4 linked regions of the Homo sapiens genome follow. The protein of the gene in region 1 interacts with the protein of each later gene in a biochemical or structural test. Each region holds a gene or a part of one and is shown in the gene's direction. Other genes may lie near its edges. The genes, in order: NCK2, EGFR, ERBB2 and LIMS1.

Region 1 (7,246 bases):
GACGGCCTTTTAACGGGCTATCAAAAGTGTGCAGCTAAAGCAAAAACAGTTTTGCATTTCTTTAGGCCATTTAGTAGCACAATTAAAAAATTAGACTCTTTTCTTTTCCTGCATTTTCCTTTGAACATTTCCCAAAGTATGTTTATTTCTAAAGGTAAATGAACGTTAGCAAGTATTACCTCTGCCCAGTGACACACATCCACATGTGTACTGGCACATACATTCCTACCTCAAGAATCTTAGTCCTTGAAACTGTGGAAATGAAAGTTATTTTGATTGAGGTAGCAGTGTCACAGTGATGTCATACGGTGTCACTGTCCCTGACCAGCCTCTGTGTTCCCTCTCAACTCCTTGGCTCAGTCTCCTCCGTGTCCTGAGTTCTTACTCATCCCAAGGGTCGTCTCTTACTTCTTTTCTTCCCCACATCTTATCAACTCCAAACTAGAGGGGATGGCATCATCTTTAAACTTCCACAGCACTTTCTTTGTGTCCCTGATTTGTCATCTGTGACATTCTTTCCTGCAGTTGTTTTTTTTCTTTTTTTAAGGCAGGGTTTCACCCTGTCACCCAGGCTGGAGTACAGTAGCATGATCACAGCTCACTGCATCCTCGAGCTTCTGGGTTCAGGCAATCTTCCCACCTCAGGCAATCTTCCCACCTCAGCCTCCGAGTAGCTGGGACTACGGGTGTGCACCACCATGCTCAGTGAATTTTTTTATTTTTATTTTTATTTTTATTTTGTAGAGACAGGGTCTTGCTGCTTTGCCAAGGCTGGTCTCAAACTCCTGGGCTCAAGTGAGCCTCCTGCCTTGACCTCCAAAAGTACTGGGATTACAGGCCAGAGCCACCATACCCTGCCCTATGGTTTTTTTGCCTTCATCTTTTCTTTACTAGATTCTGAACCGCTTGGGGGCAGACTGGTCTTGCCACTTATACACAATGAGTGTGCAACAAATACTTATTGAATATGTGAATAATGAGTGCCCAGCCTGTTAATATTGGGGCTCTAGCCTCCCACTGAGATTCAAGTGGTAAGAGACCTCCAGCATTCTTGTAAATCTCAGAACTTCTGTCTACTGTGGAAGGCTTTGACCTCAGGATGTCCAGACAATGGGAGAATTTGGTCTGTTGGCCTCTCTATTTGGCAAATTTTCTGTCATGTGAGTCATTTGTAGTCCTGAAGCTACATTTAAAAACAACAACAGCAACAACAACAACAAAAAAACAAAGCCAACCCCATACTCAACTGTATTACCTGGTGGGCTGGCTGAATGGTTTACTTTTGTAGGTTAGTCTGTTCCTATCAACCTGAATTCAAAACGCTGGGCAGACCGTTTGTGATCCTGGCCTGGTAAGTTAGTTATTTGTGTCACCCCTTCTTTCTACTGTTGTATTGGTAATGTTTTTAAGAGAAGAAGCTTCAAGTGCACTCAGAATTTTAAGTATTGCAGTTGCTTCTTTTGAGACAATTTTGGAAGCTGGGGTGCTTACGTTGCCAAATTGTTAGTGAAGACCGAAAATGCCATGATGAGAGAATGACATGTACTAATGCATGCACGCTCATTCATTGTTTGCAAAGTCCTCTTCACATACACCATCATATTTAATAGTCGAATAACATGGTGCACTTGGTTCTGGCCCTCATTTCTAGGTAGGAGACTGGGGATGACAGAGCTTGAATTTAGGTTAAGTCCTTCTGCAGGCCATACATGAGGAACACCAACGTGTTGCTGGGTAGAGTTGTTTTTTTGTGAGGCAGTTTACAGAACACAGTGTCCTTGGGTATCTGCCTTTGCCGTGTCGCAGCTGTGTGTAGATATTGGTGGAGCAGATTCTGGATGTGAGTTGACTGAGGTTGAGCGGTGTGAGGGGAGGCCGGCAGGAGCAATGTCAGTCTCTCTTGTCCCCACATCCTGGTTATGGGCCAGGGTTACCCTGGAAAGCCTCCTCAAGTTCAGAAAGCTTATTCCTGTTTAGTGCGTGTATTAGTCAGCTCCAGCTGCCTTAAGAGAATAACACACAGAGGCCGGGCGCAGTGGCTCACGGCTGTAATCCCAGCTACTCGGGAGGCTGAGTCACGCGAATTGCTTGAACCCAGGAGGCGGAGGTTGCAGTGAGCCAAGATCACACCACTGCACTCCTGGGTGACAGCGTGAGACCCTGTCTCAAAAGCAAACAAACACACACACACACACACACACACACACACAAAACAACAACAACAGAATGGGTGGCTAAAGCTGCAGACATTTATTTTCTCACAGTTCTGGAGGCTGGAAGTCCATGACCCCGGGGCCGGCAGGGCTGGTTTCTGGTGAGTGTCTCTTCCTGGCTCGTCTTCTTGTGTCCTCACTCACGTAGCCTTCCTTCTGTGAGTGCACTGAGAGAGAGGTCTGGTGTTTCTTCCTCTTATAAGAACATCTGTCCTGTTGGATGAGGGCCCCACCCTTATGGTGACCTTTTTTAACCTTATTTATGACCTTTTTTAACCTTAATTGCCTCCTGAAGCGTCCTGTCTCCAAATATAGTCACTTAGGGGTTAGGGCTTTACCATATGAATTTAGGGTGGACAATTCAGCCACTCCCAGTGTGTCTGTCTAGGTTCCACAACAGGGCTGATGCTTTTAGGAAGACCTGGTGCTCCCATCATCCAGATCTGGGATCTCTGTTTATTTGGGGACACCTACCAGGGATGGTTAGAGTAGTCACAAGTAAGGAGGGAACGTCAGCTCTTTATATATTGGTTGTAGCACCCCATAACAGGGAACAAGCCTTGGTGCTGGCCTTCCAAAGGCTGGAAAGGTTTTAAGTAGAGTGATTGAAGAGAGAGAAAAATCTTGACTTGATTTCATTTATGGAAACTTCTCTTCAACTTAGGTAGGTAGACACTTATTTGGGGGTTGGTTTGTCTTTAATTGAGACCATGATAAAATATCAGTGATATGCAAAGGAAAGTTTTTTCTGAACCCTGGATGAAGAGAGCAAAGCAAGAGGTGGGGCCAATGGCAGCCAGGGTGGAGAGGCCGTCTCCTCTGAGCCTGCCATCTCTGTGATCGTGCAGTCTTTGCCACATGAGCAAACATCCCTTAGCAGAATGTGCATGACGGTGGTGAGGTGCACCCTGAGCGTGGCTGGAATGTTTCTGACCTAGGCCATTTTGCCTTGTTCAGACATAAGGCAGGGGCAATGCCTGCATGACTGACCTCCCTCTAGCTCCAGATCTGTATGTTCATTGATGCTTTGTTTGCTCATTCATTCACATTCATATGAATTATCCAAGTTCTTAGTGGTCATTTCCACCATCCCAAACCATTTGCAGCTTCTCCTGCAACCTGCCCGCCTTCTCAGTTATATTCCCCATCACCGACTCACTCGGTTATCCTTGAATTCTCCCTCAGCTCCCAACTAGTTATCAACCCCTATTGATTCTACCTCCAAAAGATCTAACATCTCAGCCCTGCTGTCCTTTTTCTGTTTCCCCTGGACATCAAAACCACTTTTTAACCATTCCTGCCAATCCATCCCAGGGTGACTGCACCCTGACAGTCAGGTCTGGCCATGACCTGCACACGGTGGCTCTCCATCGTACTTGGGTCAGTGACTCAAGTCCCCAGCATGGCAGTCATGGGCTTGCACGACTGGGCTGCCTCTCTGTTTCTCCCAGCATCTAAATATCCCCTTCCCCATATACACACATGCTGAGCTACAAGTCATCTGTGGCCACCCACTGATGGTTTGCTAATTGTGATAACAAAACTAAGTTTATAATCAGTTTGTTTTTAAAGACTCTCTCCACTGGGACTGGTTCAGGGTTCTCCTGTGCAGTAATGGCAGGGCTACCCCACTACAGCTTTGCATGGAACTGAGCATGGGCCCAGCTCTCTGTCATGGGAGGAGAAGAGACTAACTGCAGAAAATGGTGCGTATGTGTGTTTTAATATGGACTGTCTCCCTGCAAATGCCATTTGAACTGATGGATTGTCAAGAGCAGTGCTGACCCCTTGAAATACAATGTGAACCACAAATGCAAGCCCCAGATGTAATCATAATGTTCTGGTAGCCACATTAAAAATGTAAAACCAAACAAGTATTATTAATTTTCATCCTATATTTTGCCCAATATATATATAAACTCTATGTGTAATCAACATAAAATGTAATTAATAAGATAACTCATATTCTTTTATTTGCGTGAGGGCTTTGAAATTCAGCATATAGTATATACGTTTACTGCACCTCTTGGCTGCCTCTCGCTGCATTTTGATTGGCCTTGGCCACACGCGACTAGTGGCAGCCTTGTTGCGGAGTGTGAGTCTATACACTTTTCATGATTTAAGCCTCATTTGCTGTCTGTTTTCCAAAGTTGAGATAGCTAAAGAGACAAAGTGGAAACAATGTAGAATAATTATAATGGTCATTATTATTATGCTTTACTGGGAAAGGTGTAACCTTTTTAAATATGAGGAGTAATGTCATCCTTCAGACACTCAGCACATGATGTTTTAGAGCACTAAAATCAGATTCAGTTAAAACTAATATCTATCATCAAAATACCTTGTTCATTTTACAAATATCTTAAAATGTGGTTTGAATTCTAGAAGTTACCAGTGTAAAATAACATTTTTGTATATCAGTATTCAACACATTTCCTTTTAAAAAATGTGTTCAGCACCATAGGAAAGGTAAAAAACAACATTGTATACAGTGATGGGGTACAGGTGTTATTTTGTTACATAAATTGCCTAAGGGTGAATTCAGGACCTTTATTGTATCCATCACTCAAATAACATACATTGTACCCATTGAGTAATCTCTCATCATCCACCCCTTCCTACCCCATCACCCTTCAAGTCTCTGGTTCCGTCTGGATAATGGCCTCCAGTTCCATCTGTGTTGCTGCAAAAGATATGATTTCATTGTTTTTTTATGGCTGAATAGTCTATTTTCTTTATCCAGTCATCTGTAGTATTCATATTTCTGATAACATGTTAAGTACAAGCTAAAATCATGTATTTTTAAAGTGAACATTAGCTTCTCTCCCACACGGACACAGACACACACACACACATTGTAATCACTGTTCTAAGCACTTTCCATGTAATAACTCATTGAGTCCTCACCAACAGAACGTGTGGTACTTTCTGTTTGTATCTTCATCGCTAAGGAAAGGGAGGCACTGAGGCTGCCATGTCTTAGGTTCCACAGCTAGACTCTGACCAAGCTAGCCACCATCCCTTCATTAAGATGTATCTGAAAATACATAAAACAGAACTGTAAACTTTTATTATGGTGTAAGATTTGAGAAACATTGATGGAAAATCATTGATAGGGAGTGTAGCTTGCATACAGGTTCATTCTGGGAACGCCTTATCAGCCAAGTGGTTGGGGAAGGCCCTGGACTTTGGAAGGGCCTAATGAATAACTGGTACCTTGGAGGAGGGGAAGCCTTGGATGGTCATCACTGAGGACCATTGGCCTGGCTGCTCCTCTCCCCCAGCCCCCTTGCTATGTTCCGTAGGCTGGTGGTCCTCCACCTGCCCAAGTCTCCAATTCTGCAGGAAACACCAGCATTCCCTGGGGAGAACCGCTGCTGGAGGGAACTGCAGTGGCACTGGATGAGGGGGAGTATTTTCTGTTGTAGTCACAGTGTATTAGCTCAAGTGGTCATGCAGGTGCCATTGTAAATGCCTGTGTGATGTGCCTCTTCATCAGTAGCTGTGTGGTGGGTCCCCACCCTTGTCTCCTCCACACTGGGGGCTGAGAAAACAGGAGTGTGTGTCTTCTCACTCTTCCAAGTGGCCCCCGGACTTTTGTGCTGTTGGAATAGCTTGCACAAGGCCATTTTTGCTGCTTCTGTTTTTCCTTAATGAGTTGCTGTTGTTGAAGTGAAGGTAGGCAGGTAGGTTCTTGCTGAAAACCTTGTAGCAGGACATACCAAATCCTTTTCCTTTGTGCTTTTATGACATCTGGGAAGGTCTTGAAGAATTCCAAGGTGGCTTTGAAATCTGCTTCTGAGGTTGTGAGAGAGGCCAGGTCAAGTCCAAATGTAGATTCTTGGGAGACTGCTGCTACAGGTCCTGATGGGAACTCTGACACTGGCTGCTCTTCCAAGTGAGTTGTCTGTGCCAGCTTCTCGAACCTACCCTTTTGTGTTAGGAGGGCCACTGGGGCCATCAGAGTGTTGAGCAGCCCTCCCTGGAGCAGATGGGACTGAGATAGGACGGTGAGTCTGGCGTCTCTGTTGGGAGAAGCTCCTGCATGTTCCAAGTTTCAGAGGGGCTGCAATTTGGGCAGTTTCTTTCAACTCACAGGTTTAGATTTGCAGTCACACTACCTCTCATGTGGCCACTTCTACACGTAGCAGGTTCCAGGATATGTGGTGGCAAAGAATTGTTTACTTCAACATGCTTAATTTCCCAGCAATGGTGGGGGCAGCCAGGAAGTGAGAAGTGAAAAGTAAGTTAGAAAGTGGTGAGATCACAGGGAGATGCCTAGAAAGACGCCCATGCCCATCTTAGAGGACAAAGTCCATCAATGTCTCCTTCGATTTTCCTTAACGGTTATGTCTCCCATTTAATATCTTAAGAATTTTGGTTGCGTGTTTAAGGATGTCTGCAAGTCAACAAATATTTTAATTATGTCACTTATGAGCCTGGCTACAGGAGAGGAGAGCAGTTGCTGTCTCTTTCATGCTTTCCCTCTCATCAGCTGTCTTCATTTTAAGGACAATCACTTTAAAAGCTTGTATTCCTGTTTGTGTGTGTCTGTGGGAGGTTGGGGGGAGCTGCTGCATTGGTAAGAAAGCAGCTCCCCCAACAACTTTTTTTTTTTTTTTTTAAACTGCTCTGCATGATGGAAGCCAGCTTGGAGACATTGACATAAAAAGCACAAGCTACTTGAATATTTTTAAGAGACCAAGAAATAACAAGGGATTCAGGGAGTTATTTTGAGACAGTTTTTGGGAAATTTAATATAGGTGAAGAGTGAATTTTCATCAAACGATTAAAAAAAAGTGAAACAACCTTGGTTGCAGAATCTAGCAAGATGGTTATAGAAACAGATTTTTTTTTTCCAGCCATTTCCATTCTTTCTTTCCATTCTTCTGGTTCTCCCCTCACTTTTTTGTGTGTGACTCCCCTCACCCCGTCTCTCCCGCCCTGAACACCATTTATCTTAATAGTGTGTGTGTTTCCCATCTGTCTTTGTTACTGCCCTCATATGACTTTTCTTTTATGTGCTTCTGTTA
Region 2 (7,246 bases), on another chromosome or scaffold:
TTTTTTTTGTCAACTTTGTCAACGATCACATGGTTGTAGGTGTGCAGCCTTATTTCTGGGCTCTCTATTCTGTTTCATTGGTCTGTATGTCTGTTTCTGTACTAGTACCATGCTGTTTTGGTTACTGTATCCCTGTAGTTTAAAGTCAGGTAGCATCATGCTTCCAGCTTTGTTCTTTTTGCTTAGGATTGCCTTGGCAATTCAGGCTCTTTTTTGGTTCCATGTGAATTTTTAAATTGTATTTTCTAGTTCTGTGAAGAATCTCATTGGTAGTGTGATAGGAGTAACATTGAATCTATAAAATACTTTGGGCAGTATAGTCATTTTAATGATATTGATTCTTTCTATCCATGAGCATGGAATGTTTTTCCATTTGTTTGTGTCATCTCTGATTTCTTTAAGCAGTGTTTTGTGGTTCTTATTGTAGAGATCTTTCACTTTCCTGGTTTACTGTATTTCTAGGTATTTTATTCTTTTTGTGGCAATTGTGAATTGAATTGCATTCCTGATTTGGTTCTCAGCTTGACTGTTGTTGGCATATTGGAATGCTAATTATTTTTGTACATTGATTTTGTACAACTGAGTCTTCACTGAAGTTGTTTATCAGCTTAAGGGGTTTTGGGTCAAGACTATGGGGTTTTCTAGATATAGGATCATGTCATCTGCAAACAGAGATAGCTGTTTTCCTCTCTTCCTGTTTGGATGTCCATTATTTCTTTCTCTCACCTGATTTATCTGGCCAGGACTTCCAATACTATGTTAAATAGGAGTGTTGAGAGAGGGAATCCTTGTCTTGTGTCAATTTTCAAGGGGAATGTTTTCAACTTTTGCCCATTCAATATGATGTTGGCTGTGGGTTTGCCATAGATGGCTAATATGTTGAGGTTTGTTCTTTAAATACCTAGTTTATTGAGAATTTTAAACATGTTGAATTTTATTGAGAGCCTTTTCTGCATCTATTGAGATGATCATGTGGCTTTTGTCCTTAGTTCTGTTTGTGTGGTGAATCACATTTATTGATTTGCATATGTTGAACCAATCTTGCATCCCAGGGATGAAGCCGACTTGATTGTGGTGGCTTAAGCTTTTTGATGTGCTGCTGGATTCGATTTGCCAGTATTTTGTTGAGGATTTTTATGTCTATGTTCATCAGAGATATTGGCCTGAAGTTTTCTTTTTTTGTTGTATCTCTGCCAAGCTTTGGTATCAGGATGACATTGGCCTCATAGAATGAGTTAAGGAAGAGTCCCTCCTTCTCAATTTTTTTGGAATAGTTTCAGTAGGAATGGTACCAGCTTTTTTTGTACATCTTGTAGAATTTGGCTATGAATCCATCTAGTCTTAGGCTTTGTTTTGGTTGGTAGGCTATTTATTACTGATTCAATTTTGGAGCTCATTATTGGTCTGTTCAGGGATTCAGTTTCTTCCTGAGGTTTTTATTTTTATCAAATGGAACTTAAGCTTTTTCATTTCCAATTTTTTTATGATCTAAAAATGTGCAGTTTACAGCCCTGTTCAGAATCTGCATCTTCCTCATTCTGCAGATACAGGTCCCTCAGAGCAGGTGACTGAGTGTGTATCCTGTCTGGAGCATAATACTTATGCTAGTAGAGTTACTGTTGTCTTTATTGTTAATTACCAAAGTTTACCACTTATCAGTCACTTACTACTTGCTGGGCATTGCACTAAGCATTTCAGTTGTATTATCTTGTTGGGTCCTTACAGCAATCCTGTGAAACAGATACTGCTATTACCCCACTTTATAGAGAGGTAGACTGAGGCTTCCAGCATTGAAGCAAATTGCCCAAGACTACAGAAATGTAGGTTTCTAAACATCAAGAAACAGTAACCAGTAATGATGACTAAAGCAAGGGATTGTGATTGTTCATTCATGATCCCACTGCCTTCTTTTCTTGCTTCATCCTCTCAGGGGTGACTGTTTGGGAGTTGATGACCTTTGGATCCAAGCCATATGACGGAATCCCTGCCAGCGAGATCTCCTCCATCCTGGAGAAAGGAGAACGCCTCCCTCAGCCACCCATATGTACCATCGATGTCTACATGATCATGGTCAAGTGTGAGTGACTGGTGGGTCTGTCCACACTGCCTAGCTGAGCCTTGGTGGCTGCTCTTAGCCAAACAGCTGAGGCCTTTGCATCCCTGGAGAAATGTCATCACATTACTTAAGGCAGGCACACAAATCCAGAAACATCTGTAAATACCCCTTCAAGCATTCTTTTAAAGACACTTCTTGACTCATTGGGCAGTATGACCTGACATTTGCCCATGTTTGCAAGCAAATAAATAAAACTAAAGTCTTCCGCAAGCCATTACACCAAAATATTCTATTCGCTGAGTTACTCAATGAAATACCGAGTTGCCCTATATTTTGAAGCCTGTTACCAGAGAGACTGAATGTTTTTAAATGCATGGCAGTGAGTAACAACATAAGGCTAATAGAGTCAACATTTCTGCTTTGACTTAAACCTTTTAAACCAGTGGATTTATGTGAAGTCTCTGCAGTGTGGCATTTAAACATTTCAATCTAAATAAGAGTGTGTAATTTGATTGATGCTATTATTCTACCAGATTCACGAGTGCAGTGGGCTCTGGAGGTAGCATTACATGCATGGGATGAGCATTTGCAAAAGAAAGTTGTATAGGGAATATGACAGAGCCAAGTTAATGTAAATATTAATGCCTTTCTGAACTCTAGGCCACAGAGTTGATCTTTTTTAACTTCCTTGGTTTGGGCTAAGGAAGCTGTGATCCAGAGAAGCCACGTGATTTGTCTAAGGTCACATAGCAGTCTGGCCTAAAATAGCTTGATATGCTGTGGATGGAAAATAAATGTGATCCCTCAAGAGGCATGAGGATTTCCAGGCAGTAGCCATACCTCCAAATTGTTTAATCTGGATTTAGATTGTTGGGTAGTCACATGCAGCAGCACAGTTAACAGTGTGTCCTCCTGTGGAAGTTGCCAGCACAGCCAGCCCTCTCACTTGCATGCATGCCCACCAGCCTTCTCACTTGCATGCATGCCCACTGGGTATGTGCTGTACTGGAGACGCCGGGGGTAGGGGCCCAGTCCCAACCCCAAATTCTTTAAAGCCTATTTTTCTAAGTTGCATCTGGTTTCCTACCTGAAGGAATGCTAAGGGTGGATGTTGAGTGAGGACCTTGGTGCAGGGCACCCTGCAGTCAGGATAGTTCATGGAGAGCAATTGTACAGACCCACACTGCTCCATCCCCTCAGGCGTAACACAGGATGCTGACCCCAGGAAGAGTGGGCGTAGAAAAACTAGAGGGCATTATTGTTATTCTGATTCAAATGTACAGTGCTGGCATGGTCTTTAAACAGTAACCAGTACTAGCTGGCCAAGACAGAAAAGTCTACCACAAAGACTTGGTTCTTTCATCACTTATTTGACTGGAAGTGTCGCATCACCAATGCCTTCTTTAAGCAATGCCATCTTTATCATTTCTTCCAGTGTTCTAATTGCACTGTTTTTTCTCATTCCTTCCCCAGGCTGGATGATAGACGCAGATAGTCGCCCAAAGTTCCGTGAGTTGATCATCGAATTCTCCAAAATGGCCCGAGACCCCCAGCGCTACCTTGTCATTCAGGTACAAATTGCAGTCTGTGCTTCCATTGGGAAGAGTCCCTCTAATGAGCATCTCATGTCACTGTGTTCTGTCACATGCCAGCCTGGCCTCCCTGTGTCCCAGATCGCATTATTAAACCCTCCAGCGCATTAGAGCAAGCCTCAGTAAGGCGCAGGCCACATCGTGAACTAAGCAGCATCCGTGAGTGGGGCCCACCCAACTCCATCTCCCCCTCCCCGTCTGAACTCTCCTCTGGTGCTCGTCCTCACTGTCCGGCTAGCCAAAGCCTCAGCTGGGTCTAAGAGAGAAGCATGGTCTATTGGGCTTTGGTGTCAGGCAGACGTGGCTTCACACCCCTGACTCTCCACTTCTTCGCATCACCCAGGCAGCCGATCCACCTATCTCCTTCCATAACACAGGAATACCAAAACCAAGCTCACAGGATTGTCTCAAAGATTCAATAAAATATGTTGCAAAATACGCTCCCTAACACCTCACAGCAAGGTGCACACTCGATGAATGCTGCAGCTTCTTCCCTTTCTGTTTCCTCAGAAGCTATTTGAATCTCATGTAGGGGCTTTCAAGCATCAAAGGATGGTTCATGTTTTATTTTAAGGCACCCACATCATGTCATGAGGGGAGGCAGCTATAATTTAGAGAACCAAGGGGGATTTCATTATAACAAAATTGGCAAACACACAGGCACCTGCTGGCAATAGACCCCTGCTCCTATAGCCAAGAAGTGGAATAGCATCTCTACGGGCCATTCTAATAGCCTCAAAATCTCTGCACCAGGGGGATGAAAGAATGCATTTGCCAAGTCCTACAGACTCCAACTTCTACCGTGCCCTGATGGATGAAGAAGACATGGACGACGTGGTGGATGCCGACGAGTACCTCATCCCACAGCAGGGCTTCTTCAGCAGCCCCTCCACGTCACGGACTCCCCTCCTGAGCTCTCTGGTATGAAATCTCTGTCTCTCTCTCTCTCTCAAGCTGTGTCTACTCATTTGAACAAATTGAATTTTAGGGAAAATAACCATCTAGTGAAACTCACATGGATATGAAGTCAATTTTAACCAAATGGTAAAATCAAAATCAAAATAAATTAAGTGTATTAATTATTTTGTTGCATTGCAACAACTTGATTGTAAGCCTTTTAGGTCCACTATGGAATGTAATTAAATCAAAACTAAACCTAGTTGCTCTAAAACTAACGATTAAGACAAAAATTAAACACCTTCACAATATACCCTCCATGAGGCACACCACCTGCATTCAGGAAAAGTGGATGAGATGTGGTACAAGCATTCCATGGGCAACTTCTCTGTTTCTTTTTCAGAGTGCAACCAGCAACAATTCCACCGTGGCTTGCATTGATAGAAATGGGGTATGTATGAACACCTTATAAGCCAGAATTTACAGCTCTCCACTATGGCTCTATTTTACATGGAAAATGCCTTAACCTAAATAATTTTAACCCAGATAATCTTGAGTTTTCTTCCTGTGTGGGTTTTTCCCTGCACGGCTGTCACGCCTCACAGTGCCGTTCAAAGCGTGACTCCTGGACCAGTAGTAGCATCGCCTGGCCTTGTTAGAAACGCCATTTTTCAGGCCACTGCCCCAGTTTGACCAAATCAGGACCTCTGGGGGTGGCACCCAGTAGTCTATGTTTGAGCCACTTTCCAGGTGATGCTGATGTCTGTTGAAGTGTGAGGCCGTGGTCTAGACCGCACTGTGCCATGCAGAAACCACTAGCCACATGTGGCTACTTCAACTTAAATGTTAATGAGTTAAAATGAAATAAAATATAAAATTCAGTTTCTCACACATGTGAAGTGTCCAGTAGCCACACGTGGCTAGTGGTGACCGTATTGAAGAGCACCGCTCATAGCACACCTCCCTCACTGCGGAAAGTTCTGCTGTACAGCACCCAGCACAGCCCTGCTGCCCACCCTGCAGCCTGTGGCCCAGTAGCACCAGCACCCACCAGGGTGCAGACTCTCAGGCCTGCCCAACCTACTAATCAGAACCAGCATCTCAAGGAGATCTCGGGTGATTTTTGCAAACACTGAAGTTGGGGCAGCCCTGACCGGAGTAACCTTCCCTCATTTCCTCCTGCAGCTGCAAAGCTGTCCCATCAAGGAAGACAGCTTCTTGCAGCGATACAGCTCAGACCCCACAGGCGCCTTGACTGAGGACAGCATAGACGACACCTTCCTCCCAGTGCCTGGTGAGTGGCTTGTCTGGAAACAGTCCTGCTCCTCAACCTCCTCGACCCACTCAGCAGCAGCCAGTCTCCAGTGTCCAAGCCAGGTGCTCCCTCCAGCATCTCCAGAGGGGGAAACAGTGGCAGATTTGCAGACACAGTGAAGGGCGTAAGGAGCAGATAAACACATGACCGAGCCTGCACAAGCTCTTTGTTGTGTCTGGTTGTTTGCTGTACCTCTGTTGTAAGAATGAATCTGCAAAATTTCTAGCTTATGAAGCAAATCACGGACATACACATCTGTGTGTGTGAGTGTTCATGATGTGTGTACATCTGTGTATGTGTGTGTGTGTATGTGTGTGTTTGTGACAGATTTGATCCCTGTTCTCTCTGCTGGCTCTATCTTGACCTGTGAAACGTATATTTAACTAATTAAATATTAGTTAATATTAATAAATTTTAAGCTTTATCCAGATACTCATAACCTGCTAACACACACACATATACACACACATACACATACACACATATACACACACCACACACATACACAGACACCACACACATACCATACACAGACACATACACATGCACACACATATACACACACACCTCAAATACATACACACCACACACACATACATGTATACACACATACACACACCACACATACACCACAAAAACCCCACACACATACACATATACACACCACACACACCACATACACACACGTATACACACATATATACACACATACACCATGCATACATACACACCACACATACATACAGACACACCACACACACGTACACACAACACACAACACAGACACGTACACACACTACAGACATGTATGCACACATACACACACACCACACATACATACACACAGACACATATACACTACACACACCATTACATACACACGTACACATACACCACACACACCACACATACACACACCACACACACATACGCCACACACACACCACAAAAACCGCACACACATACAAACATATACACACTACACCACACATACACACACACACCACACACCACACACACACATACACACACCACACACACCACACATACACGCACCACACATACACACACGTAGACACACCACACACACCACAGAAACACACATTAACACACCACATACACATATGTATGTGCATATACACACCCACACCCCACACACACATGTATAAAGATTTAGATATATATAAAACATATGTTATATATATGTTGATGTAATATCTAATATCTATATATCTAATATGTAGTTTATTAGCTATCTAATATCTATGTCATATATATCAAAATCTTTATATATAAAAATATGTAGAAATCTTTATACATATGTTATATGTATATAAAGATTTAGATATATAACATATGTAAGTTATATATATGTTAGTGTAATAT
Region 3 (8,047 bases), on another chromosome or scaffold:
GACAAACGCAGTGCAGCACAGAGACTCAGACCCTGGCAGCCATGCCTGCGCAGGCAGTGATGAGAGTGACATGTACTGTTGTGGACATGCACAAAAGTGAGGTGAGTCGCAGGACAGAAGAGTGCTTTTTGTTTCAGCAGAGCAGCCTGGGGAGAGATAAAAGCTACTCCTGGGGCCTGGGCCTGCATTCCTGAGATGTGGGTAAGAGGGGCCCAGGGTCAGAGTGTCTGGCAAGCTTGGCTCTGCCCCTTTGCTGTCCTGGAGACTAGGGCTAATCCTGGGCTCAGGGAGTGGCCTCCCCATGGTTAGGATACAAGTGCTCATCAAGGGCCACCCCTAGGAAGGACCAATTTTCCTATCAGAAGCTTCTAAGTTATCCTCCTTTGGCCCAAAGGGACACCTCAAGCCTACTCTGAGGAACTCTTTCCAATGAACTAATTCCTACAGTCACTTCCCCAGCAACCTGTGCCTCAGCCTCAAGGCACTGTGGGGTAGGCCTCAGTTTGTGGCCTGGACATCGGACTGTGGACCAGACGACTCCTCCCGATTTCTGTTTGTTTTCAGTCCTCTGACCCCAAGCTGGCTGGTGAAGTAGGTAGAGGGAGGAGACTTTGGTGCATGCATACACACACACACACACACACACACACACACACACACACACACACACACACACACGTCTCCTGTGCCCCCCAGTCTCCATGGCTGGTCAATGATTGACTGGCATTTCACAGGCCGCTGGTTGCAGCCCCAGCCTGTTGACTTAGAGGTCACCCTCGGAAGCTAGAGCCCTGTCCTGCCTCTTCAGTGTCAGTGGTCACTCCACTGCCCACAGGCTGGGGTCTTGGGCAAAACACACGCATCTGCCCTGATCTGAGTTTGCTGCCCTCTGTCCCGCAGTCAGCCCCACTCTGTTCCCACTCCCTCTCCCCAGCCCCCTAGCTAGACCCCTCTCACCAGCACCCCTTTCCCTTCCCTGAGGGTCCCCCTCGCTGTCTTTGTCCCTCAGACATCCTCTTTCCTGGGCTCTCCTGCCAGGCCCTGCTGGAGGGACAGTTAAGGAGGAAATCGAATCAGCAGCGCCCACCCCTGCCCCCCTTCCTCTCCTCTTGTCAGACACCAGACGAGGTTTTTTCCTCTGGCTTCCCAGCTCTGAATGGGCTCATTCTTTTTCAGAGGCTCGGCCCCTCTCGAGCCTCCTCCCCAGGGCGTGAGTTCTGACCCCAGCTCCTCCCCCCATCCCCACTCCAGCCCCCTCTCCAGCTTGCTCCACCCTCTCTACCGCCCACCGGGACTGGGCATTGTCTGCCAGTCCGGGTTTCTTCCTGGGATTTGGGATGCAGAGAGGATGGGTTTGCTTGGGCGGGGGGGTGGAGAGTGAAGGGGGGAAGCAGGATCTTTGTAGAGGGAGGGACCTACAGTTACCTGGACTTCTTTCCTCTGTCTCCCCTCTTGGTACCCTTGACTGGGGCTCTTGAGGGTAATGGGTGAAGCCAAATCTGCCATGGCTCAGTTCCCAGCTCAGCTCTGTGACCTTGGGAAAGTTCCTTTAGCTCGTGGAATCTCAAGGCTCAAGGTTCCTCTTCTGCAAAATGGGGAATGATAACACCTGCCTCCTCTGGAGTCTTGGGGACTCAGTGTTCTGAGGAACGTGGCTGTAGGTCAGAGTGGCACAGAGTAGGGTCCAATGAAGCATGGCGTCCACAGTAGCTTTCCTGACTGGACTAACCTTTCCGGACACAACAGCAGGGCAGGGGTGGGGCCTGGGGAGAAAGGACACCTCTAACCCTGATCCTAACATCCCGATGGCCTCTAAGGCTGCCTGCACACTCATCCAGGTGCAAGCCCTCCAAGGTGTGGTGTGATGAACCAGTGACTCCTGGAGCCAGGTCAGCGCATCCTCTTCCCGCAGGGCTGTAAGCTGCAGGACTGAGAGGCAGGTTGACCAGGTCCTGGGCTGGATGATGGGGTGAGAGTAAGGGGTCAGTTTTGATACATGCCCAACTTTTCTCTCTAGCCCTAAGACATCCTGGGCAAATTGCTTACCTCAGTTCCCCTGATCCTCACCCTAACCCTAACACCAGCTCAAGAGAAAATAGGGATATTGATGGCCATCCAGAAGGGCTGCTGTGTTCCATACACAGCAATATTTCTCGAATGTTTGTGACAGCGGTCCAAGGAATAAGTTAATTTTACATTATCACTCTGGATACCTGTACAAAACTCCACCTTATCCTTACTATATGAATGTGCTAGGGTTGTTTTTTTGTTTTGTTTTTTTTTTTTTTTTTTGAGACAGAGTTTCGCTCTTGTTGCCCAGGCTGGAGTACAATGGCGCGATCTTGGCTCACCGCAACCTCCGCTTCCCAGGTTCAAGCGATTCACCTGCCTCAGCCTTCCCGAGTAGCTGGGATTACAGGCATGCGCCACCATGCCCGGCTAATTTTGTGTTTTTAGTAGAGACAGGGTTTCTCCATGTTGGTCAGGCTGGTACCAAACTCCCGACCTCAGGTGATCCACCTGCCTTGGCCTCCCAAAGTGCTGCAATTACAGGCATGAGCCACCGCACCCAGCCGTGCTAGGGTCTTTTTCTGTTCAATTCCTTTCTCTCTCTTGCTCTCTTTCTTTCTTTCAATGGAGTCTTACTCTGTCACCCAGGCTGGAGTGCAGTGGCAAGATCTCAGCTCACTGCAACCTCTGCCCTCTGAGTTCAAGCAATTCTCCTGCCTCAGCCTCCCGAGTAGCTGGGATTACAGGTGCCTGCCACCACACCTAGTTAATTTTTGTACTTTTAGTAGAGATGGGGTTTTGTCATGTTGGCCAGGCTGGTCTCGAACTCCTGACCTCGTGATCTGCCTGTCTTGGCCTCCCAAAGTGCTGGGATTACAGGCATGAGCCGCCATACTCGGCCAACTTTGTATTACTTTCTTAAAGAGAGTTTCCCAAATTATATAAGCTTCAGGCCCCACAAAACCTAGATCTGCCCCAGTATAACTAAATCTGGGACCATTTATTGAGCAATTATTATGTGCCAAGTATTGCGCTGAGTGCTTCCAGAGCATTATCTCCTTTAACCCCAGCATAGTATGTCAGATGCTGTTTTACAGATGAGCCAACTGAGACCAGAGATGCTCAGTCACTTGCCCAAGGTGACATGACTGATATGGAATAGAGTCAAGATTTTTTTTTTTTTTTTTGACACGGAGTCTCACTCTGTCTCCCAGGCTGGAGTGCAGAGGCGCAATCTCAGCTCACTGCAAGCTCTGCCTCCCAGGTTCACGCCATTCTCCTGCCTCAGCCTCCTGAGTAGCTGGGACTACAGGCACCCGCCACCACACCTGGCTAATTTTTTGTATTTTTAGCAGAGACAGGGTTTCACCGTGTTAGCCAGGATGGTCTCGATCTCCTGACCTCGTGATCTGCCTGCCTCGGCCTCCCAAAGTGCTGGAATTACAGGTGTGAGCCACCGCGACTGGCCAGATTCAAGATTTGAACCCAGGTCCTCTTGGTCCCAGAGGCCCCTGTTTCTCAACTCCCTAGGATGGCATAGCAACCTGTCCCACAAGAGGTGCCTGCTTTAAGTGTGCTCAGCACATGGAAGCAAGTTTAGAAATGCAAGTGTATACCTGTAAAGAGGTGTGGGAGATGGGGGGGAGGGAAGAGAGAAAGAGATGCTGGTGTCCTTCATTCTCCAGTCCCTGATAGGTGCCTTTGATCCCTTCTTGACCAGTATAGCTGCATTCTTGGCTGGGGCATTCCAACTAGAACTGCCAAATTTAGCACATAAAAATAAGGAGGCCCAGTTAAATTTGAATTTCAGATAAACAATGAATAATTTGTTAGTATAAATATGTCCCATGCAATATCTTGTTGAAATTAAAAAAAAAAAAAAAAGTCTTCCTTCCATCCCCACCCCTACCACTAGGCCTAAGGAATAGGGTCAGGGGCTCCAAATAGAATGTGGTTGAGAAGTGGAATTAAGCAGGCTAATAGAAGGCAAGGGGCAAAGAAGAAACCTTGAATGCATTGGGTGCTGGGTGCCTCCTTAAATAAGCAAGAAGGGTGCATTTTGAAGAATTGAGATAGAAGTCTTTTTGGGCTGGGTGCAGTTGCTCGTGGTTGTAATTCCAGCACTTTGGGAGGCTGAGGCGGGAGGATCACCTGAGGTTGGGAGTTCAAGACCAGCCTCACCAACGTGGAGAAACCCTGTCTTTACTAAAAATACAAAAAATTAGCTGGTCATGGTGGCACATGCCTGTAATCCCAGCTGCTCGGGAGGCTGAGGCAGGAGAATCACTTGAACCAGGGAGGCAGAGGTTGTGGTGAGCAGAGATCGCGCCATTGCTCTCCAGCCTGGGCAACAAGAGCAAAAGTTCGTTTAAAAAAAAAAAAAAGTCCTTTCGATGTGACTGTCTCCTCCCAAATTTGTAGACCCTCTTAAGATCATGCTTTTCAGATACTTCAAAGATTCCAGAAGATATGCCCCGGGGGTCCTGGAAGCCACAAGGTAAACACAACACATCCCCCTCCTTGACTATCAATTTTACTAGAGGATGTGGTGGGAAAACCATTATTTGATATTAAAACAAATAGGCTTGGGATGGAGTAGGATGCAAGCTCCCCAGGAAAGTTTAAGATAAAACCTGAGACTTAAAAGGGTGTTAAGAGTGGCAGCCTAGGGAATTTATCCCGGACTCCGGGGGAGGGGGCAGAGTCACCAGCCTCTGCATTTAGGGATTCTCCGAGGAAAAGTGTGAGAACGGCTGCAGGCAACCCAGGCGTCCCGGCGCTAGGAGGGACGCACCCAGGCCTGCGCGAAGAGAGGGAGAAAGTGAAGCTGGGAGTTGCCACTCCCAGACTTGTTGGAATGCAGTTGGAGGGGGCGAGCTGGGAGCGCGCTTGCTCCCAATCACAGGAGAAGGAGGAGGTGGAGGAGGAGGGCTGCTTGAGGAAGTATAAGAATGAAGTTGTGAAGCTGAGATTCCCCTCCATTGGGACCGGAGAAACCAGGGGAGCCCCCCGGGCAGCCGCGCGCCCCTTCCCACGGGGCCCTTTACTGCGCCGCGCGCCCGGCCCCCACCCCTCGCAGCACCCCGCGCCCCGCGCCCTCCCAGCCGGGTCCAGCCGGAGCCATGGGGCCGGAGCCGCAGTGAGCACCATGGAGCTGGCGGCCTTGTGCCGCTGGGGGCTCCTCCTCGCCCTCTTGCCCCCCGGAGCCGCGAGCACCCAAGGTGGGTCTGGTGTGGGGAGGGGACGGAGCAGCGGCGGGACCCTGCCCTGTGGATGCCCCGCCGAGGTCCCGCGGCCGGCGGGGCCAGAGGGGCCCGGACGAGCTCTCCTATCCCGAAGTTGTGGACAGTCGAGACGCTCAGGGCAGCCGGGCCCTGGGGCCCTCGGGCGGGAGGGGGCAGTTACACGGCAGCGGCTCGAGATGGCCCATCCAAGAGACTGGCGCTTTCCAGGCTCCGAGGGGCTCCGGGAACTTGTCAAAGAAGTTCTCTGAAATTGTTCAGAAAGTTTTCCCGCAAAGGGTGTATTGCGTAGAGCGCGCGCGCGCGTTTCCCCCCTTCTTGAGCCCCCTCAAGCTTTCTCAAAGCCTTTCCAGTTGGCAGCCTCCGCCTCCGGACTGGCCTGGGCTGGATTCCTTGGGGGGGTCCTCTGCCCTGCCCCTCCTCCAGCCCCTCCCCGCTCCCCTTCAGACGATTTTGGTTTGGTTGCTCCTGCTTCTGGCGGGGTCGGGTGTGTGTGTGTGTGGTGGAGTGGAGGGTGGCATAGCAACCTGTCCCAACCAGAGCCGGGGAGGAAAGGGTGGCCCGGAGGGTGGCCTCTTGCTGGGGTCTGGGTTGGGGGCGGGGGAGACGTTTGCTTTGAACAGATTCTTGGGGCCAGCTTAGGGACTGTGCTCTGTGACTTTTGGAGCGCGTGGACCATGGAGGGGTGGGGGTGGGTTTCTTGGGGTGTAAAGTGGGAGAGTTCCCAGAGAAGGAAGCTAAGAAATAAGGCCAGATGGGAGCCTAGGGAGGGCTGCGTTGTTCTGCTGCCTTTTCCTTGGTGCTGTGCGTGGGGAAGGGTGAGTGGGGGCAGTGTGTATCCTGACCCATCTGTCCACCTGTGTGCATTAATCATAAAAGCTAACATATAGCCTGGGCCAGGTATACTCTGCCAGGAACTGTTTGTGGTGTTTTGCATGCATTCTCCTTTAATCCTAGAACACCCCTATAGTGGAAGTTCTGCCAGCATTCTGGACTGAGTAGCAGTCCAGAGGTTGAGTAGCAGCTAGTAAGTGGTGGGGTCAAGATGGGACCCCAGGCAGTGCGACCCCCAACCATGCATTCGAAATCGCTATATGGATGAGTGCACCTGGAGCAATGAGGGACACTGCTCCCTGAGTCACTGGGCTGCAGGGGAGACAAAATGAAAGTGTTCTGGGAGTCGTGGGTGGTCTCCATAGGTCAGAGGGTCTGGGGAGGGAGTGGGTGTCATCGTGGCTGTGTGTTGCCCGAGGGGCCCTCTGTGAGTGAGTGCATGGCCGTGTTATCTCTGCAGGTCTACGCCAGGGTGTTCCTCAGTTGTGTGGTCTTTGTATTTGTGTGTCTGGGCTTTGTGTTGCCAAACAGCAGTCTCTCTGCTGACTTGGGGACACAGGCTGAACTCTGTCCTCTGCAGGAACTCCCTTAAGGTGCTGGGCCAGATCTGCCATAAACAGAGGGAGGTAGCCTTCTATGGCCACGCCTTCTTGCTGAGGAAGAAGGTTCCTCTCTTCCAGGGAGTACATCCTTGCCCTCCCTGTTTCCCAGACAAGCATCTTCACCTCTCATCTTCTGATGAGAAGGGTGAGGCCATACTGAGCTGTCAGGCTGAGCTGCTGCCCTTCCTCACCTTGGGCTGGGAGTTGATCAGGGAATGGCAGTTGCTGCAGAGCTGGATTTGAGGGCTGGGTTCTCTGGATGGGGCCTCCTCATGTCCTCACCCCTCAACCTGCACTATTGATTGTGTTGTGCAGGAGTTAGTTAAAAAGTCATTGCACAGCCTGGGCAACAAGGCAAAACTCTGTACAAAAAATACAAAAATTAGTTGGATGTGATTACACGTGCCTGTAGTCCCAGCTACTCCGGAGGCTGAGGCAGGAGGATCACCTGAGCCCAGGAAGTTGAGGCTTGCAGTGAGCTGTGATTGCAAATGCTCTCCAGCCTGGGTGACAGTGTGAGACTCCGTTTCAGAAAAAAAGTATACCACCCAGCTGCCTCCAGCACCCAGATTTTACCCAAGGGGTGAGGTCTGGGGCAGGAATGTGGGGGAAGGGGAGGCCTAGGGGGAGCCCCAGAGGGGTCAGGATTTTTCTGAAATCCTTTCTTAGAGGTATGGGTTTTACAAATTGCAGCAAATACATCCTTTTAATCTTGCAGAACTCCTTCATATTTTAATTCCAGTATGATTCTTCCAACAGCCTCCTCTCTTTACTATACTTGGGGAAAGTACTCATTTTATTTGTCAAGAAAAAAACAATTGAAAAGATAGGGATCAAATGTAAAAAGAAAAAATACGTGGCATTCCAAAGTCAAACACAAAGCATGTTTAATTTTCTCGTGGTTTGGGATTACCCATATTCCTGCTGTATGAACCTGTCTTGTCTTAACTTTTAAGAAATGTACGGTGTACTTCCTATATGCTAGGTTTTTATCCATGCTTTCATTTAATCTCTGTGACAGTCCTGTGAAGTAGGTGCACAGATGAGAAAATGGAAGTTCAGAGAAATGAAGCAACTTATCCAAGGCTCCCAGCTACCCAGTAATGTCCAGGGAATTTTTGGACTCTGAAGAGGAGGCATTAAGAGGTGGTTAGAGTCTTATTCCAGCCAACAATAATGGGTTGAACAAAGCCTTAGGGGCAGGCAGGTGGCCAGATGGGAGGAGAAGCGCTCCTCTTGTTCAGGCGAATGACCTTTCCATCCACTTCTCTAGGCTGTAGAAAGTGGAGCTGAGCTGGGGGCCCTGAGGTTCCCTCTTGACTTCAGAGTCCTCTCCCTTCCTGTCCAGCCAATGCCTGT
Region 4 (7,246 bases), 2.8 Mb from region 1:
TGCAGGTATTGGGGATATTTAAAAAGGAACAAATACAAGGTTTCTCTTAAAATTGCTCTTGAATGCTTGTGGTAGTGTGTGCCTTGTAGTTTTGGCTAGTTTTAGTAGGATGTAATAACTAAGACTTGGACCACCATGGAAGAAGCAACTTTCTGCCTTTCAGGATTTTCCCTGATAAGAAAATGGCCAGTGCCATTATGAAGAGGGACAATGCCATGGGCCTAAGTGTATTCACACTTTTCAGTGCTCTGTGCCTGTTTGTATGGTGAGAAAATCGAACTGTTGATTTTTAAGAAAGCTAAGGAAAGTTTGGTGGTACAAAAGATCATTTCAGTTCTGGTGGTTCCGGTTTTTGCAGGCTTAGAGAAAACTGTCCATCAGGATTGTGCTGTCTTGATTTTATTTGATCATTCCCACCCTTTTCCCTTTGCTGTAGCCCCTTGACCTGTCTCCTGGGCAGTTCTTTCCTTTGCTAAATGTGAGTACAACAAGTAGGCTTTCCTTTCCTCCTAGAGAGGGGGACCTTGGAGCCCCTCCACTGGGTCAGAGAAACTTCCATAGCTGCAGCAGATCAGTAACAGGAGAGCCGAGCTTTACTCTGAAAGCCTCTATTTTCAATAATGTTGTGTTTGCTCTTTGGATAATCATTTAAATAAATAAACCTCAGTATAGGTCATGTTCTTACCTAGGTTTGCACTTAAATAGAAGGAAAAACATCTCAAACCATTTTGTTAGTTTTATAGTTCTCGTAACTACACTTTAAGCTGTGGTTTTCCACCCACAGGGATGTCATCTACATTATATGCTGGACTGTTGCCACATTGTCTTCCAAAAACTTTAATTTTAAGACACTTGAGAAGCAGGAGCTGCACTACCTGTTGCCATATACTGTGCATTCTTCAGCAACAGAGGTTTCCTTTTCACTCTTTCTGATATAATCTCATCTCTTTTATTTGATCATATCACACATTTCCACCCTGGAGCTTACTGCAGGAATGAGTAAGGGAGTCATTTTCCTGCATCTTTTTTCACGTTGGAGCACGTTTTGGAGCTTGATGAGTCTTCAGTGACATTTAACAGTGGGGCGGGACAGCTGCAGATAAAGCAAGTGCTGAAGAGTGCATTCTGTGAGAGGTAGGAAGAAAGGTGAAGGCAGTAGTTCAGCTGCTGGGAGTATGTGCTTGGCAGTGGGAGGCACGGGACTCAGCATCAGCACACCAGGAATCCAGGGCTTTCAGGATGTCTGAGTAGCAGGCAAGGTAAAGCAAGATAACAGACAACATGCATTTACAAGTAATGTTTACACATACTTTCCCTTTCTACAAAAATGGAATCATAGTCATACTATTCTGCAATTGCTTTTTTTAGTATTAAAAAAGTTACGGGAAAACATGCAAAACAAAATTTACTATTTTAACCATTTTTGAGTGTACAGTTCTGTGGCATTATGTACATTGACGTTGCTGTGCAACCATCACTACCCTTCCTTCCAAGAACTTTTTCATCTTCCCAAACTGAAACTCTGTGACCAGTAAATACCAACTCCCCATTTCTTGCAATTGCTTTTTTACTTCAACAAGCTGTCTTAGAGCGGTGTATCTGGGTTTACCTTATGTTTTTTAACCTTAGTTTTAATGGCTGCATAGTATTTCACAGTGTACATGTGATATGATTTGTACATCCAGTCCTTGACTAGTGGTTATTTGGGTTCTATTTTTTAATTATCACAAACACTTTGAACATCTCTGCCAGAGTGTTTTTTGTTTTGTTTTGTTTTTGAGACAAGGTCTCACTCTGTCACCCAGGCTGGAGTAAAGTGGTGCAATCATGGCTCACTGCAGCCTCAACCTCCTGGGGTCAGGTGATCCTTTCACCTTAGACTTCTGAGTAGCTGGGACAACAGGTACATGCCACTATGCCCGGCTAATATTTTGTATTTTTTGTAGTGACAGGGTTTCCCCATCTTGCCCAGCCTAGTGTTGAATTCCTGGCCTCAAGCGATCCGCCCTTCTCGGCCTCTCAAAGTTCTGGGATTACAGGCGCGAGCCACTGCACCCAGCTACCAGAGTTTTCATAGCTTTCTGAGTGTAGAGTTAGTATGTGCATGAGTGTTTGGGTCCATGTTCTAGTCCTAGTTCTGTCCCTTCATGGCTCTTTGACTTTGGCCCTGTCAGCGTCTTTAAGCCTCAGATTCTTAATTTATAAAATAATCCCACCTGTCTCAGAGGTTGTTGTGATAACTAAATATGAAGGCAAATGCAAATATTTCTGAAAGGATACCGATGAAATTTTTAGTGATTGTTGCTTCTGGAGAGGGAGTCTAGGCACCTGAGAATCCAGGATGAGAGGGACATTTTTTGTTGTATAGCTTTTTGTACTGTTTTGATTTTTAAAATCGTGTATGTTTTCATTTTTAAACCATTTAACACCATGCCAGGAACATAGTAGATGCTCAATGAAGTCATCATTTCCCATCATCCTGGTTCTTTTCCTCCGGACTTATACTGCTGCTAATGGCACCTAACATGGTTGCTTTTGTTTCTTCCTGTCCTTCCCTCCCTATAGCCACCTTCTTGCTGAGTTCTTACCTTCGAATTTTCTCTTGAATCCATCGTTTTCTTTTTTCACTCCTTTCTTACTGATTTCCTTTTCACCCTGGTTCTGAAAATCTTTCAAATGAACATAAGATGATAGTATTAAGACTGGGAAAGACTTGAGAGAATGCAGAGCCAGTGTCCTGTGGACTGTAAACTTATTCCAACTGGCTTGAAAAAAAAAATCTATGCACATACTAAGTGTTTGAAGTGGAACAAATGATGTTTTGTGAATGTTTCTAATTTTCATTTAACAGGTGATAAAGTACAGATTCCTTTTTTTTTTTTTTTTTTTTTTTGAGACGGAGTCTTGCTCTGTTGCCCAGGCTGGAGTGCAGTGGCATGATCTCGGCTCACTGCAGGCTCCGCCTCCCGGGTTCAAGTCATTCTCCTGCCTCAGCTTCCCAAGTAGCTAGGACTACAGGCGCCTGCCACAACACCTGGCTAATTTTTTGTATTTTTAGTAAAGACGGAGTTTCACCGTGTTAGCCAGGATGGTCTCTACCTCCTGACCTTGTGATCTGCCCGCCTCGGCCTCCCAAAGTGCTGGGATTACAGACTTGAGCCACCGCGCCTGGCTGATAAAGTACAGATTCTTTTAAAGGGTTTGTGGAATTCGTGGTAGTATTTATATAGTGCATGCTTTATCTGTTAACGTGCTAAAAAGACAATCATGGTGACATGAAGATCTAAGAAAATTTATTTAACATTTAAAAAGTGGGTTTATATGTGAAAAAGTTGGAACCTACTGAACTCATGCACTTTAGTGGGTCCCCTGCATTAGCCCTTTATTTAAATACACTGCTTCTTTATTTTACAGGACAGGATTTGCCTAGAAGGTAAAATAGTTTATTCAAGGCCGAAAGTCAGTTAACAGCAGGGTTAGGAATACAGCCCAAGATGTGGTTGTATTGTGGGGTCTCCTCTGCTATATTACGTTGGTTTGCTCTGTTACTTTATTCACATTGCATTGTTACAGTTTGTTGTGTGTATATATTTTATCTTTTTGTCTACAGTATAGAGTAAATACCTTGAGGACCAAGACCTATAGCTGAGCCCATTAACATAGTACATTTGGAAATGTCTGAATGAATTATGGATATTGGCCCAGAATTGTTCTATTACAGGTGTCCTGGATGTCAGTCTCTTTCAAGTGATTCCTTTTGAAGAACACTTCAGAAGTGTTGTTGAAGACCTGGTATTCCTAGCCACATGTGCTGGTGCTTGCAACTTTTTCCTCCCCAGAGAGATCCCTTCCTATTGACGGGCTTCCTTACCAATGCATCAGCTGAGTGACAAATGTTACCAACTACTTAAACAGATATGTTTATTTCTCATTGGTAAATGTAGCTGTTGTTTTGTTTTTGTTTGCTTACTTTTAAAGCTGGGCACATTGCTGTCCATTTTAAAATTTGCCTTGTTAATACAGTGAGGAAGGGAGGGAGAATGGACATTGGGTAGGCAGTTGCAGCTTTTGCCACAGCTAGCTGTTTCTCCTTCTCAGTGCAGTAGATTCAACAGGATTTGTTTTTCTGTGCAGGTACAGTGCAGGTGCACCTGACTGATCTGTCATCCATGTTGGTTTCAGATTTTTCTAAAGAACTACTTTGGTCACATGTTTTCAAAATATTGAGAAGCTGCTTATTGCCTGTCAAGTAGGTCCAAACTCCAGCGCCTGGAATTTAAGGCTGTTTGTGATCTGGCCCAACCCATCTTCATAGCCTTGTCACACACTGTTTCCTTAGCCTTTGTCTCTCTAACCCACTGCCTTTTTCTGAAAATGATGATTTCCTGCCTCAGTGCTGTTCATGCCCTTCTCTGGGCCTGGAAAATCATCATCTTTTGTGTTTTCTTGGCAGCTGGAACAAAATTGCCGCTTCTCTCATAAAATAACGAATTCCTGGAGCATTAATTTAGCCCCCGCTGTGTAGTAGGGAATTAGGGATTCAGAGCTTTTTCTGTTTTCCCAAAGCATTTTGAATTCTTTTTTGGTAATTACCAATTTCTGTTTTGTTTTATAGTTTTTTGTATATATGTCTAAGCTTTTCTGCCAAAGTGTAATCTCTGGAAGTAAAGGAATGTCTTAATCAAATTTGTTAAATATCCAAAGAAAAACAAGCTGCACAGTAGGCTTTATTTCTCCTTTTATTTGTTGTTAGTGAATCGAAAAGTTCAGGGCTAGCTCTGTTTAGTGTCTTTGACGTTGTTTGAATAAATTCACAAAACTTTGAGTAAAACAGGATCATTTTCTTTGGTTTAGCTTGACTCTACAGTGTATTACAGACTGCTGGCAGAGACCCAACATCATGAAACATTTAGGAGAAATTCAGATGATATTTAGGCATCCTTGTTTAGTTTCCTCCTAGGCCACTGTTTTGGAAACTCGGTTAGTCATAACCACCTTCTCTTAATTACCTACTTCCACACAAATACCTTAAGGATATTGTTTTATATAATCTTACCATCACAGCCACACCACGAAGTAGGATCTTTATATCTATTTTACAGATAAGGAAACCAAGCTCAAGAGGTTAAGAACTCACCAAGTCATACAATTAGTGACAGCTGGGATTCATACCGAAGTGCCCTGTAGAGCCCTGTGTCTCCTCACTTCATGGCACTGGTCAAGAAGAGGTCACAGCTCGCTAATTGTTTTTCCAAGTCTCAAGGCTTTTTCTTGGCATGTCCAGACAACCTATCCAGTTTTACTCCCTCCTACCCTTACGCTTATATCATCTTATTGCCAACCATACCACAGTCCTTCTTTCTGAACTTGATTTTTGTTACTCTGCTAGGAGTAGCCTTTCCTTTTTTAAGGGGGTAGGAGTTCCCAAGTCTTACAACTCAAGTCCCAGCTTAAACTCCTCTGTCTTGAAGATGACTTCCTTGGCTGCTTCAACACCTATTAGGCTTTCTTTTCTTGACCTCCCGGAGAATGCATTGGGTAAGATTCAGTTCTCTACCCAAATTTAATGTGTCTGTATTTGTGTGCAACACACAAACTTCATTATTTTTATTTGAACTCTTGGCTGTGCTTGCATATGTGAAAGTGATATTTACAAATTTTGGAACACATCTTTCAATACAATTTGTGTCCATTATATACACTGTACTATGCTATAGGGCATGGAGTATACAGCTGTAATAGAGTGAAGGACACATTGTCTAATATTGTAGCTTTGTGTGTACAAGTCCCATAAGAGACTGTTTAAAAAAGTCTTTTAGAAATTTCACTGGGCATGGTGGCTCACACCTGTAATCTCAGCACTTTGGGAGGCTGAGGTGAGAGGATCGCTTGAGCCCAGGAGTTCAAGATGAGCCTGGGCAACATAGTGGTACCTCATCTCTACAAAAAATTTTAAAATTAGCTGGGCATGGTGGCACGTGCCCGTAGTCCTGTGGCAGGCTAGGTCTCACTAATGCAGGCCTCCATAACAACTGTTTCAATACTGACTGACTGGTTAAGTGAAATAGTAAAAGCTAAACAAGTCAGTGCCCTTATCAAAGGCTGGAGTGTAACAGAAACCTACCAAGAGTTTTGCCTAGGCCTTTCCTGGGCCTTAAAGCATGAGAAAATAACAAAAGAATTCTTAACAGGACCCTTTTAGGATTAAACAAATTTTATTGTGGGTCTGAAAAAACTCCCCAAACCTCTGTGATTTAGTAGGAGACAAGGGTAATCACCTCAGCACCTGGACCCATTTAGATGAAGTAAATCTACTGAGGATCCAGAAGAAGGTCTCCAGCACTCAGACCTTAGTTATAGATTAAAAGAAGTTAATCACTTACGTCTTCAGGTGAATGCACACTTACCTGTAGACATATAGCTTAGAAGGTATATAAGCTCTGGAAAACTGCAATTTTGAGTTGGTCTGGTGATAATTTCCAGGCCTTCTCCCTGTAACTGGTTGCAGAAATAAAAACTCTCTTCCTCCCCTGTTCATCTGCATCTCGTTATTGGGCCACGAGAAATAGCAGCCCAACCCTCAGTTTGGTCCAGGAAGAGTCCCAGCTACTCAGGAGGCTGAGGTGGGAGGATCACTTGAGCCTGGGAGGTTGAGTCTTGCCACTGCACTCCAGCCTGGGCAACACAGCAAGACTCTTTCTTTCTCTGTCTTTCTCTCCCTCTCTCTTTTCTCTCTTCTCTCTTTCCCTGTCTCTCTCAAAAAAAGTAAAAAGAAATTTAAAGGAGGAAGTGGTAATTTGTTAGTAGTTATTATAGATTAGTTGTTACTTATTGAAGACATTAGGACCAGTCAAATATTATTGGATTCTTAGCAGGTAGAGGTGTATTGGTCATCGTAGGGTTCAACCAGAGGCCTGGCTTATTTGGAATGTTGTAGGGAAAATTCAAGAATCAGGGAGAACAGTGCTCTCAAAACATGGGCTGCAGACTTCTAATGGCATGGGGTTCATGCTAAAAATGCTGATTGCTCAGCCTCATCCCATACTTCTTGAGGGATGTATGTCATGAAATCTATGCTTTTTAATTTTTTATTATGGAGGATTTCAAACATATACAAAAATACAGAGAATAATATGTCTCTGTGTGTTTCTGCTCAGCTTCAACAATTATTATTTTATTTATTTATTTTTGAGGCGATGTTTTTGCTCTGTTGTCCAGGCTGGAGTACACTGGTGCTCTTGGCTCA

Evidence for each region.
Region 2: the proteins of NCK2 (region 1) and EGFR form a complex in vitro, tested with the Homo sapiens proteins (2 studies listed by BioGRID).
Region 3: the proteins of NCK2 (region 1) and ERBB2 form a complex in vitro, tested with the Homo sapiens proteins (2 studies listed by BioGRID and IntAct, with this or other methods).
Region 4: the proteins of NCK2 (region 1) and LIMS1 form a complex in vitro, tested with the Homo sapiens proteins (4 studies listed by BioGRID and IntAct, with this or other methods).

What each region holds. Positions count from the first base shown.
Region 1 is NC_000002.12:105,747,859-105,755,104, forward strand, and holds part of NCK2 (cytoplasmic protein NCK2), read left to right. Parts: intron 1-7,246. UniProt on the Homo sapiens protein: Adapter protein which associates with tyrosine-phosphorylated growth factor receptors or their cellular substrates. Maintains low levels of EIF2S1 phosphorylation by promoting its dephosphorylation by PP1.
Region 2 is NC_000007.14:55,196,787-55,204,032, forward strand, and holds part of EGFR (epidermal growth factor receptor isoform a precursor), read left to right. Parts: intron 1-1,930; coding exon 1,931-2,077; intron 2,078-3,529; coding exon 3,530-3,627; intron 3,628-4,401; coding exon 4,402-4,569; intron 4,570-4,948; coding exon 4,949-4,996; intron 4,997-5,730; coding exon 5,731-5,839; coding exon of another isoform or gene 5,840-5,979; exon of another isoform or gene 5,980-6,290; intron 6,291-7,246. UniProt on the Homo sapiens protein: Receptor tyrosine kinase binding ligands of the EGF family and activating several signaling cascades to convert extracellular cues into appropriate cellular responses.
Region 3 is NC_000017.11:39,695,081-39,703,127, forward strand, and holds the start of ERBB2 (receptor tyrosine-protein kinase erbB-2 isoform a precursor), read left to right. Parts: upstream 1-4,983; 5' UTR 4,984-5,158; coding exon 5,159-5,231; intron 5,232-7,709; exon of another isoform or gene 7,710-7,834; intron 7,835-8,047. UniProt on the Homo sapiens protein: Protein tyrosine kinase that is part of several cell surface receptor complexes, but that apparently needs a coreceptor for ligand binding. Essential component of a neuregulin-receptor complex, although neuregulins do not interact with it alone.
Region 4 is NC_000002.12:108,537,324-108,544,569, forward strand, and holds part of LIMS1 (LIM and senescent cell antigen-like-containing domain protein 1), read left to right. Parts: intron 1-7,246. UniProt on the Homo sapiens protein: Within the IPP (ILK-PINCH-PARVIN) complex, binds to F-actin, promoting F-actin bundling, a process required to generate force for actin cytoskeleton reorganization and subsequent dynamic cell adhesion events such as cell spreading and migration.